Regions from separate parts of the Homo sapiens genome. Here region 1 is linked to region 2. Evidence: fine-mapped expression QTL. A gene starts in region 2. The other region holds a variant in brackets. All regions are shown on one strand. Distances are from middle to middle. Region 1 overlaps SH3BP5 (SH3 domain binding protein 5). Region 2 holds the start of SH3BP5-AS1 (SH3BP5 antisense RNA 1).

Evidence for each region.
Region 1: its variant is fine-mapped to the expression of SH3BP5-AS1 in tibial artery (GTEx, PIP above 0.99).

What each region holds. Positions count from the first base shown.
Region 1 is chr3:15,291,022-15,295,413 of GRCh38, forward strand. The region is part of intron 3 of SH3BP5 (SH3 domain binding protein 5); the gene reads right to left. Among named protein-coding and RNA genes, the nearest start is that of SH3BP5-AS1, 39 kb to the left of the region's middle. The variant C/T (reference allele first, on the strand shown) is at 2,369.
Region 2 is chr3:15,252,053-15,256,416 of GRCh38, forward strand. It overlaps SH3BP5-AS1 (SH3BP5 antisense RNA 1), which reads left to right and starts at 2,132. Exons shown (of 3, transcript NR_046084.1): 1 at 2,132-4,364. CAPN7 (calpain 7) reads left to right here. Exons shown (of 21, transcript NM_014296.3): 21 at 1-864. SH3BP5 (SH3 domain binding protein 5) reads right to left here. Exons shown (of 9, transcript NM_004844.5): 9 at 2,301-4,251. The coding sequence ends at 4,034.

The DNA of each region.
Region 1 (4,392 bases), 39 kb after region 2:
CCCTTCGGAATTCTACCGGGAGCTGACCAGCTCTCAGCAAAACCAAGCTAGTGAGGGTTGGGGTGGACAGAAAAAAATACTAGACCCAGCTCCTTATCTTAGAAACTCAATTTCGTCCCAGAAACACCAGGCTTGGGAGTAGCTAGAACAGCAGCATGAGCATTCGCATGCTTTTTAGTATCACTCAACTCTCCTGTCTGTGTTCACTTGTGCCCACTCAAGGCTACAGGCTAAGGAATGACAAAGTGGGAGCCAGGGTTCCTCCACAGCTCCACATGCTGTGGATTCAGGAACCCCAAGACAGGGCAGCTGACCCCAAAACTACTTTCTCTCTCTGGCTGATCAACACTACAAATTCCCTTTTGGTAGGGCTGCCAGATTTAGCAAATAAAAATATAGGCCTTCCAGTTAAATCTGAATTTCAGGTAAACAATTTTTTTAGCTTATGTACCAAATATGGCATAGAACAAATTTATACCTAAAAAAAAAAATCTGAAATTTAACTGGGTGTTCTGTATTCCCATGTTCTATCCGCCAATCTTACTTCTGGCTTAAACTCCACAAGGACATCCCACTGGGTAGAAATGAAAAGTCTACCTACAGCCTGCACTTCTAAGCATTTCCCACTTAGTGTAAAGGGTGTAGTTCTGTCTCTCACATGTGCAGAGGTTCCCACAGCATGATGAACCCTGAGTTGGGAATATGCAGTCCCACCAGGTTGGAAGCAGGGTATTCCAAGCTATGGGAATGTTTGTAAGTCAGAACCACTTGAAGCCCCAGAGACCATAAATCTCTAAGTCTTATCAGTCATTTACTTCTCAGCATGAATAATTTCATCAGATTCTTCAGGGTAGATTTTCATAGAAGTCACAACTGGAAGGGCTGGGGAAGAAGTAGAAAAGAAAGGAAGGAAAGCAGGGGCATCCTCTGAGTCAGGAAAGGAACAGAAGGTGCACCAAGAGTGCACAGCCGGGGCCCAAACCTCGTCACCAGGCAACATAAAAAGGCCAGCCTGTGTCGACAAAACTCGTAGCAGAAACACAACCTATGCTCTGATTTCCTTTCACTGAAAAATTAATCACTCTGCCACTCTTGCCAGGGAATGCCTGTGGTTTACAGAGGGGAAGGGGCTATCCATGTCCATGCAATCACTTTACTGAAAGCAGAGTACAGTTGAGAAGAAGGAAGGAAACATCTGAAGAGCATCATGGTTTCAGGGAACCAAACTCCACACCCTGTTTCCCCTCTAACCACTATGCTGTGGTGACAAACCACACCTGTTAGCTTCACAGAGAACACTGCCTGCCCAGCAGCACCAAGGGGGGCTCAGCCATGCCTCTGTGAATAGCAAAGGAGATAAGAAAAAGGGAGTTGCCCATGACAAACCTCCCAACTAACAAGGTGATGGAGGGCAGCTCCTCCAGCCCAGTGCTTCCTGGCTAAGACCTGCCTGCAACCAGTCCCCCACGCGGACTTCCTGCCACCTGCCAGACAGAATGGGGTTGAATGCAAATGGTTCATGGCATCACCAGAAAAGAAAACCTAAGCCAGGCGCGGTGGCTCATGCCTGTAATCCCAGCACTTTGGGAGGCCAAGGTGGGTGGATCACCTGAGGTCAAGAGTTTGAGACCAGCCTGACCAACATGGAGAAACCCCATCTCTACTAAAAATACAAAATTAGCTGGGCGTGGTGGCGCATGCCTGTAATCGCAGCTACTCGGGAGGCTGAAGCAGGAGAATTGCTTGAATCCGGGAGGCGGAGGTTGTGGTGAGCCGAGATCACACCATTGCACCCCAGCCTGGGCAACAAAAGCGAAATTCCATCTAAAAAGAAAAAAGAAAAGAAAACCTCAAGATCAGCAACACTCTCCCTGCTCCAGCCCCAGACGCCCGAGGCAGAGCCAGCCAAGCAGGAGGTGCAACCCTTCTGGCAGAAGCCCAAAAATCTACTTGTGTGTGTCAGGAGCCTTTGACCTGGGTCAAAAGCTGCAACACATCTCCTTCCTGACCCCATCCTAATTCAAGATTCCAAGTTTCCAAAGTGCAGCTGCTTCTTTCCCAGAATCTTCAGCCAAGACTGTCAGGCAGGATGTGATCTTTCAGGCGAAGGAGAGTTAAGAGTCCATGCTCAGTTCTTGCCATAAATCTCCAGGAACTCTGCTTTGAGACAGATGCCCTGTCATTCCACTACGTGCCCTTACTTTGGGCAGCAGGAATGACGCAGTTCCCAGGAACTGGCCTGTGGCCACCCAGGGGGAATGTGACCAGGGCCACAGGGAAGAACGTCACTGAGCCAGACCTCCTCACCCAAAGTCCCGTGGCAAGAACTGCCCCCAGGCAGGCAAGTGGCTCTGCAGAGATAAAGTGA[C/T]GGGGAAGAAGGAAGGCATGACAAAGCCACACTGAAGTCCTAGCAGGAACAGGGCACCATGAGGGGAAAGTTCCCAAGGACTCCAGATTCTTGGAACAAGAGCTTCTCGGAACAAGAGCTTCTCAGTTACCCTAGCCAAGAAGAGGCAGGGGTGTGCAGGGAAATAACTGCACCAATGAGCTCAAAAACTGCCTTTAGTCCTAAAAGCCCATTCTCCTCAGATGTGCCAGAGTGTCTTTCAGATTTGCAAATAGTCATAAATGCCTCCTATGTGCCAGGCACCAGCCAGAACCAGGTAGACTTGGTTTAAACCTTCACTCCTGTCCTCGCAAGGTCTGTGATGTTAAAGTCCCCAAGCCTCAGTGATTATTCCCCCTCAGTATGATGAAAATAATATCGTCTTGCAGGCCGGACGCAGTGGCTCACACCTGTAATCCCAGCACTTTGGGAGGCCGAGGCAGGCGGATCATCTGAGGTCAGGAGTTAGAGACCAGCCTGGCCAACATGACGAAATCCTGTCTCTACTAAAAATACAAAAATTAGCCTGGTGTGGTGGTGTGCACCTGTAGTCTCAGCTACTCGGGAGGCTGAGACAGAAGAATCGCTTCAACCTGGGAGGCAGAGGTTGCAGTGAGCCGAGATTACGCCACTGCACTCCAGCCTGGGCGATAGAGCAAGTCTCCATCTCAAAAAAAAAAAAAAAAAAGAAAAGAAACAAGAAAAAGAAAAGAGTACCACTTTGCAAAAAGTACTCGCTGTAAGGATTAAATGAGATAATGTACATAAAAGACCTATGACCACAAACCCAGGCCCCTAGCACAGCCTCAACAAATCAGGGCTGCAGATAGCCCCTTAAGAGAACACAGACTCTAAGCCCCAGTTTCTTCTTCTGCAAAAGTAAGTGTGTGTGTGTGTGTGTGTGTGTGTGTGTGTGTGTGTGTGCGCGCGCATGTTTACGTAACTCCCCCTCATGCATGTAAAACACTTAGAAAGTGCCTGGTATACAAAGAGTGTTGAAATTACTCTTCTTCCTCCTCCCTTCCATCCTCCTTTCTTCCTCCCTTCCATCCAGTAAACTGTCACCGCCATACCACTGACTCCCATTTTCCCTGCATTCTGGATAGATAATTAACCAAGTCTGTTACAGTCTCCCTTCACATTCTCTTAGATTAGGCCACAACACCGGAAAGGTTTATGTAAAGGCCCAGTCTTTGGGCTCCAAGACTAGTTTCCTCATTCGTACTATAAGGCCAAAAGGGAAACAATGACAGCCCCCGCACAGAGCAGTGTGTGTGGCACCTAATACATCATTAGCGCTCAAAAAATGGCAAAAAATGGAGCTGCCATTAATGTAAGGACATCAATTTCTCAAACACAACCTAAGCCCCCTAACTCAAGAGCCTACCATGGCTACTTTGCAGCTTCTCAACCAAGTCTGAAGGGTAGGCTGAGGCGTAAGGCACCCTCAGCTGTCCATGCTGTTCCTTTCCTGACTGGTCCTTTAGCTCCCCTAAGCCTCTCTTTCCAAGGCTCTGGCTTCCTTACCCAAGTTCATATCTGCACTGACCCCTCCCCTCAGATCTCTGCTCTTCTGTCTTTACCAGCCACCCTTCCTCTTGTGCTTCGGAGTGTGCACAGTGTGTCCTTCCCCTCAAGCCTTTCCCCTCAAGCCTTCCTGATGGGCAGCATCTCCCGCCAACACACACACACACAGTGACACACTCCCTAGCTTCTTCCCTTTGCCATCTACATCAGAGCCACATGGTTCAGCGCACTAACAAATAAGCCTCTCCATGTGGCTCTTGGCAAATACAGTCAGTCCTCATTATTCACAGCTTCCGTATTTGTGAATTTGCCTACTTACTAAGCTTTATTTGTAACCCCAAAATCAACACTTGCAGTGTTCTTGGGGCCATCCATCGACATGCACAGAGTGGTGAAAAAATGAGCTACCTGATACATACGTTTCTAGCTGATGTCCAACAAGAAGCCACCCTGCCTTCTTGTTTTGGCTCTCATACTGT
Region 2 (4,364 bases):
ACTTTGAAGAAAATAGAGAATTTAATATATGGTGATTGGGATATGTAGCATTCAAAAAAAGTGAATTGCCAAGATACTGGTGTCATGTAAATTCCCACTTTACATAAAAACCCATCAGGACAGAATGATGCTCAATATTTTAAAATTCTAAAAATAGGGTGGGATTTTTCATTGTCTCTACTTTATAATTATCAAAACTTATTTTGTATTGCTACTACCTTAAATTGAAATAAAATGTTTATACTTACGGATATTGCATAGTTTAAGTTAGATTTATTGAAAGATTTCATCTGTCGTGTTTCATGTAAATGAGAACAGATTATTTGCATGAAAATATATACTTCAACAAAAATCTGTTCTTTAACAGAGTAGTGGTAGATTATTACACTAATGAGATTTCACTTTGGTAAATACTTCATGCTTTCAGTTTTAGCCTATTAATTTTAGGTGGACAAATTTAACAAGTTTTCTGTTACTTTTTAAAAAGAAAAAATCCAGAACATAAGAACTATATTATGAACACATGATTTGAACCTGTTGTGGTAAAGATCTTGTACAGGATGCAAACTAAAAACCTAATCCCTGCCATCAAATTTATTAGAAGAGACCTATATATGAACAACTTAAAGGCACTGATTTCTATAATAGAGCTCTAAAAACATGCCACCAGTGTATGAATAAGGGAAAGATTAATTTTGGCTGGACCAATATAAAAAATTGTATTTGAAGAATTGATACTTTAACTTGGACCTTGAAGGTAAAGCTTCAAAAGACAGGTTACTGACCATTGAGTGTTTACTATGTACCCAATGTGTATATTTTTCTTTTTAATCTTCCCAATAGCTGAATAAAGTATAGATACTATTATTTGTACTTCTTACAATTGAGGAAATAAGCCTAAGAGATTAAAAGATTTTGCCCAGGGTTCACAAGCCTTCTTCCCTGAGCCCTGATTGAGCTGCTGTGTGTGTCTAATGGCACCCACAGTCACGGCCGTCTAGTCGAGGGAGGGACAAGATCTAGACCCATTGTAGAGGGAGGAAAAACAATCCAGGCCTTTTGGAGGTTCTAAATAACAGACAGACCAGTTGAATTGTTAGAGAGGATGACTCAAGTTTCTAATTCAGCACATGGACAGATGCTCATAGCTTCAGTGAAAGGTAAGTTTTGACACATTAAATTGCCCAGAAAATCCAGATCTGGAATCAACGTGGTATAGTAAGTGAGATCACCCAAAAAGTCAAGAGTCACGTGAACTAAAGATGGTTAAGAACTGATTTGGGGGAAGTTTTTTAGAAAGTATTTCTAATTTAGAAAAAAATACATAGACTAACAGGAGATACAAGAAAACGAGGGTTGGGGGAGGATTAAGAAGCCCAGTGAACAGAATTCCCAGAAGAGTATAATTAAATGTCAGATGTGGTGGAGATAAAGAGGCCACAGTGACAGCAGTAGGGGCAGACTACGTAAAACTAGAAATTTGACTAGGTGATAGTGTGAGAAGGGAGCCCTGGTCAAAAGGTGGTCTGCATCCTTTTCTGGTGTAGGAGACAAGCAAGTGGTAGGCTGATGGGAAAGGGGGATTGAGGCAGGAAACAAGAGAAATTCTTAATGCCCATAAGGAATACTCTAGTGCTACTGACTGACTGCCTAGGCTTTGTCTTTTGTAAAGACAAGGGAAAGAAAGCCCCAGTGTTAGAAAACTCCTTCCCACTTTCATTCTCTGCGAGAAGTACCTAGAAATTTCTAGTTATTAGACTGTATAACTTGACTCTGCTGTAAAAACTTTATCCTAGCTTGGGCTATTTTCCAGATGGTGTTTCTTCTAGGAGGAAAAAGAATTGCCTCAATTGCAGGGAAGTTTTTGCTAATGGTAAGTCAAGCAAGTCTCAGTGTCTTTACTACAGGTAAAAGGGTGTAAGGAGATTTTATGAGAACTGAATGAACCCTGAAGGTCACTAGTCAAATTCAGGTATGCTGTTAAGTGTTCTTGCTTGAGACCCAAATTACAAGACTGGCCAATTTTTGTATTTTTGGTAAAGACTGGGTTTCACTATGTTGCCCAGGCTGGTCTCGAACTCCTGGGCTCAAGTGATCCACCAGCCTTGGCCTCCCAAAGTGCTGGGATTACAGGCATGAGCCCTTGGGCCCAGCCGGCTGTTTAATGTTCTTAAATAGCACAAGGGACTTCTATGAACTTTCCTAGATGAAATATTTATTAACTACTAGGTAAAACACTTGTTTGATACTGCAAAGGGTTATTTCTGAAACTTAAACCTCATGATTGGCCAACCAAGAACTTTTTCTCCACAGCATGCTTTAATAATGAAATGCGGATTAAGAGTCCAATATTATAAAACATTTCCACAAAAGAAAGAATCCATCTGATTCTCAACTCTGAATGCACATTTGAATTCCCTCGGGGAGCTTTTAAAAGTCTAATGCCCCAGTGTACCCCCCCCAGTTAATTAATTAAATAATTCTCTGGGGATGAGAACTGACTGACAGCAACACTTAAGCTTCGAGACTGCAGTGTGCAGCCGAGGCCCACTCCTCCAGCGTCACCACCTCGTCTTTATCTGCCACTGTGTCTCCTCATTGCCCACAGCTTTAGCAACAGCAAAAGTAGAATTCAAACCTTGGTAAACAAGGCTTAAATTATTACTGTTCATGACCTTAATTAATTGAAAATGATTACTGGTGACCACAGCACTCCATGCTCTTCCTTATGGAAAAAGGGTTGCCTAGAAGATTTAGGCAATACTGGGAGTTCTTATTTGAAGTCACAGAAAGGAGAAACTTTTCTCAAGCCGTTTTTATTACACTTAGTGTATTAAGACAAGTACAAAATAACCTTGTAATTAAGATACTGTATCAGTCAAAAAAGAAGTCACTATTGTATGAAGAGATTTACAAATGACTAAAATATACAGGCTGTGACAGAATTAACAGTTTGAAAGAGGGTTGCTTTTTTCTTTTAGAAATGCTAAATTTTCTTAACAAGACAAAAATACAGTGCTCTAAATATGCATTACCATGAAAACGTTAAAGAAAAGCAGTCTTAACACTTAACTACTATTAACAGCCTTTGCCAACACATGCCTGCCTACTCCCTTTCCTAACTTTAAAGAACTGTTTCCTCTAAGGAATACTAGTGCAGCATAACCCTTAAATAATTTCATTTATTTTTAAAGTTACAACCTACAGAGAAATTAACATCTTGTCAATCTAATAACAGTGGCAACCATTCTTCACATGCACTTCTCTTAGAATAAATCCCCTTGGCTGGCAGGATAAGGCTTATGCTGTAGAACCTTCTCCCCCACAGCCACAAATCCCCTTCTATAAGTCCCTCCTACCCTCATCCCCCCGCATCCCCACTGGCATTCACCTTTCCCACCCCAAAAAGTGCAGCTCATGGTAGCCTTCTAGAAAATGGTTTTAATGGGTATCCCAGCATACACGCTTTTTTAAAAGCCCCCTCTGAACACCAGAGGTGGTGAAAATGAATTGTGTTCTTGGATTTTTTTTTTTTTAAGCCTCCACTGGGTCAAAAATATGTGCTCTTAATACTTGAGTTTTTGCTTTGTGTGTGGGTTTTCTTTCTTTTTCATTTAGATATCGTGGGATAAAGTGGAGAGGACATCTCCATTTTCCCATACAAACTGAGGGTGAGAAGAGAAAGAGAAGCAAGCTGTTGCCCCCACTTTGGCCTGGCTTCCCAGCCATCTTCCCAGCTCTGGTTCTTTCATAGGAACTAGTTATTGCTTCCACAATGCCGTTATACGGAATGTTCCACAAAGGCTGTGAACCTAGTCACAGTCTACCCACAACAAGAACTCTGCTCTGAAAAACCAGCCCAAGAGCTCTTACCCAGAAGAACAATCTTTAGCCCTCAAGGTCACTGAAACTTCATTAGAGCAGTTTAGAGTAGACGTGTAAGATTTGGCATATATTAAATGATTATTGGCACAATGTTCTCCAGTTCCATGTATAAATGTTGATATGCACATCGGCCAGGGCCCAGGATGAATCAGCCAATCTGCACCATTTTTATGTCAGCAATAATTCCATCTCTTCCCTTTGAGCACTGTAGGGAGAGCTGCTTCATCCGGTTCTCCAAGGCCTGGCCCTCAGGGGAGGTGCTGCTTTGGCTCTTACTGCTGCCACCACTGCCACTGCTACTGCTGAGGCCCCGGTTGTTGTTGGCTTTGTCACTTGTTTTATTCTCTGCCCCTTCTGCCCTGTCTCCTATAGAAATACAAGGATTATCAAAAGTGAGTATTGACAATTCTGCCCTGTCTCCTATAGAAATACAAAGATTATCAAAAGTGAGTATTGACAATTCTAAGTCACTTGAGCTC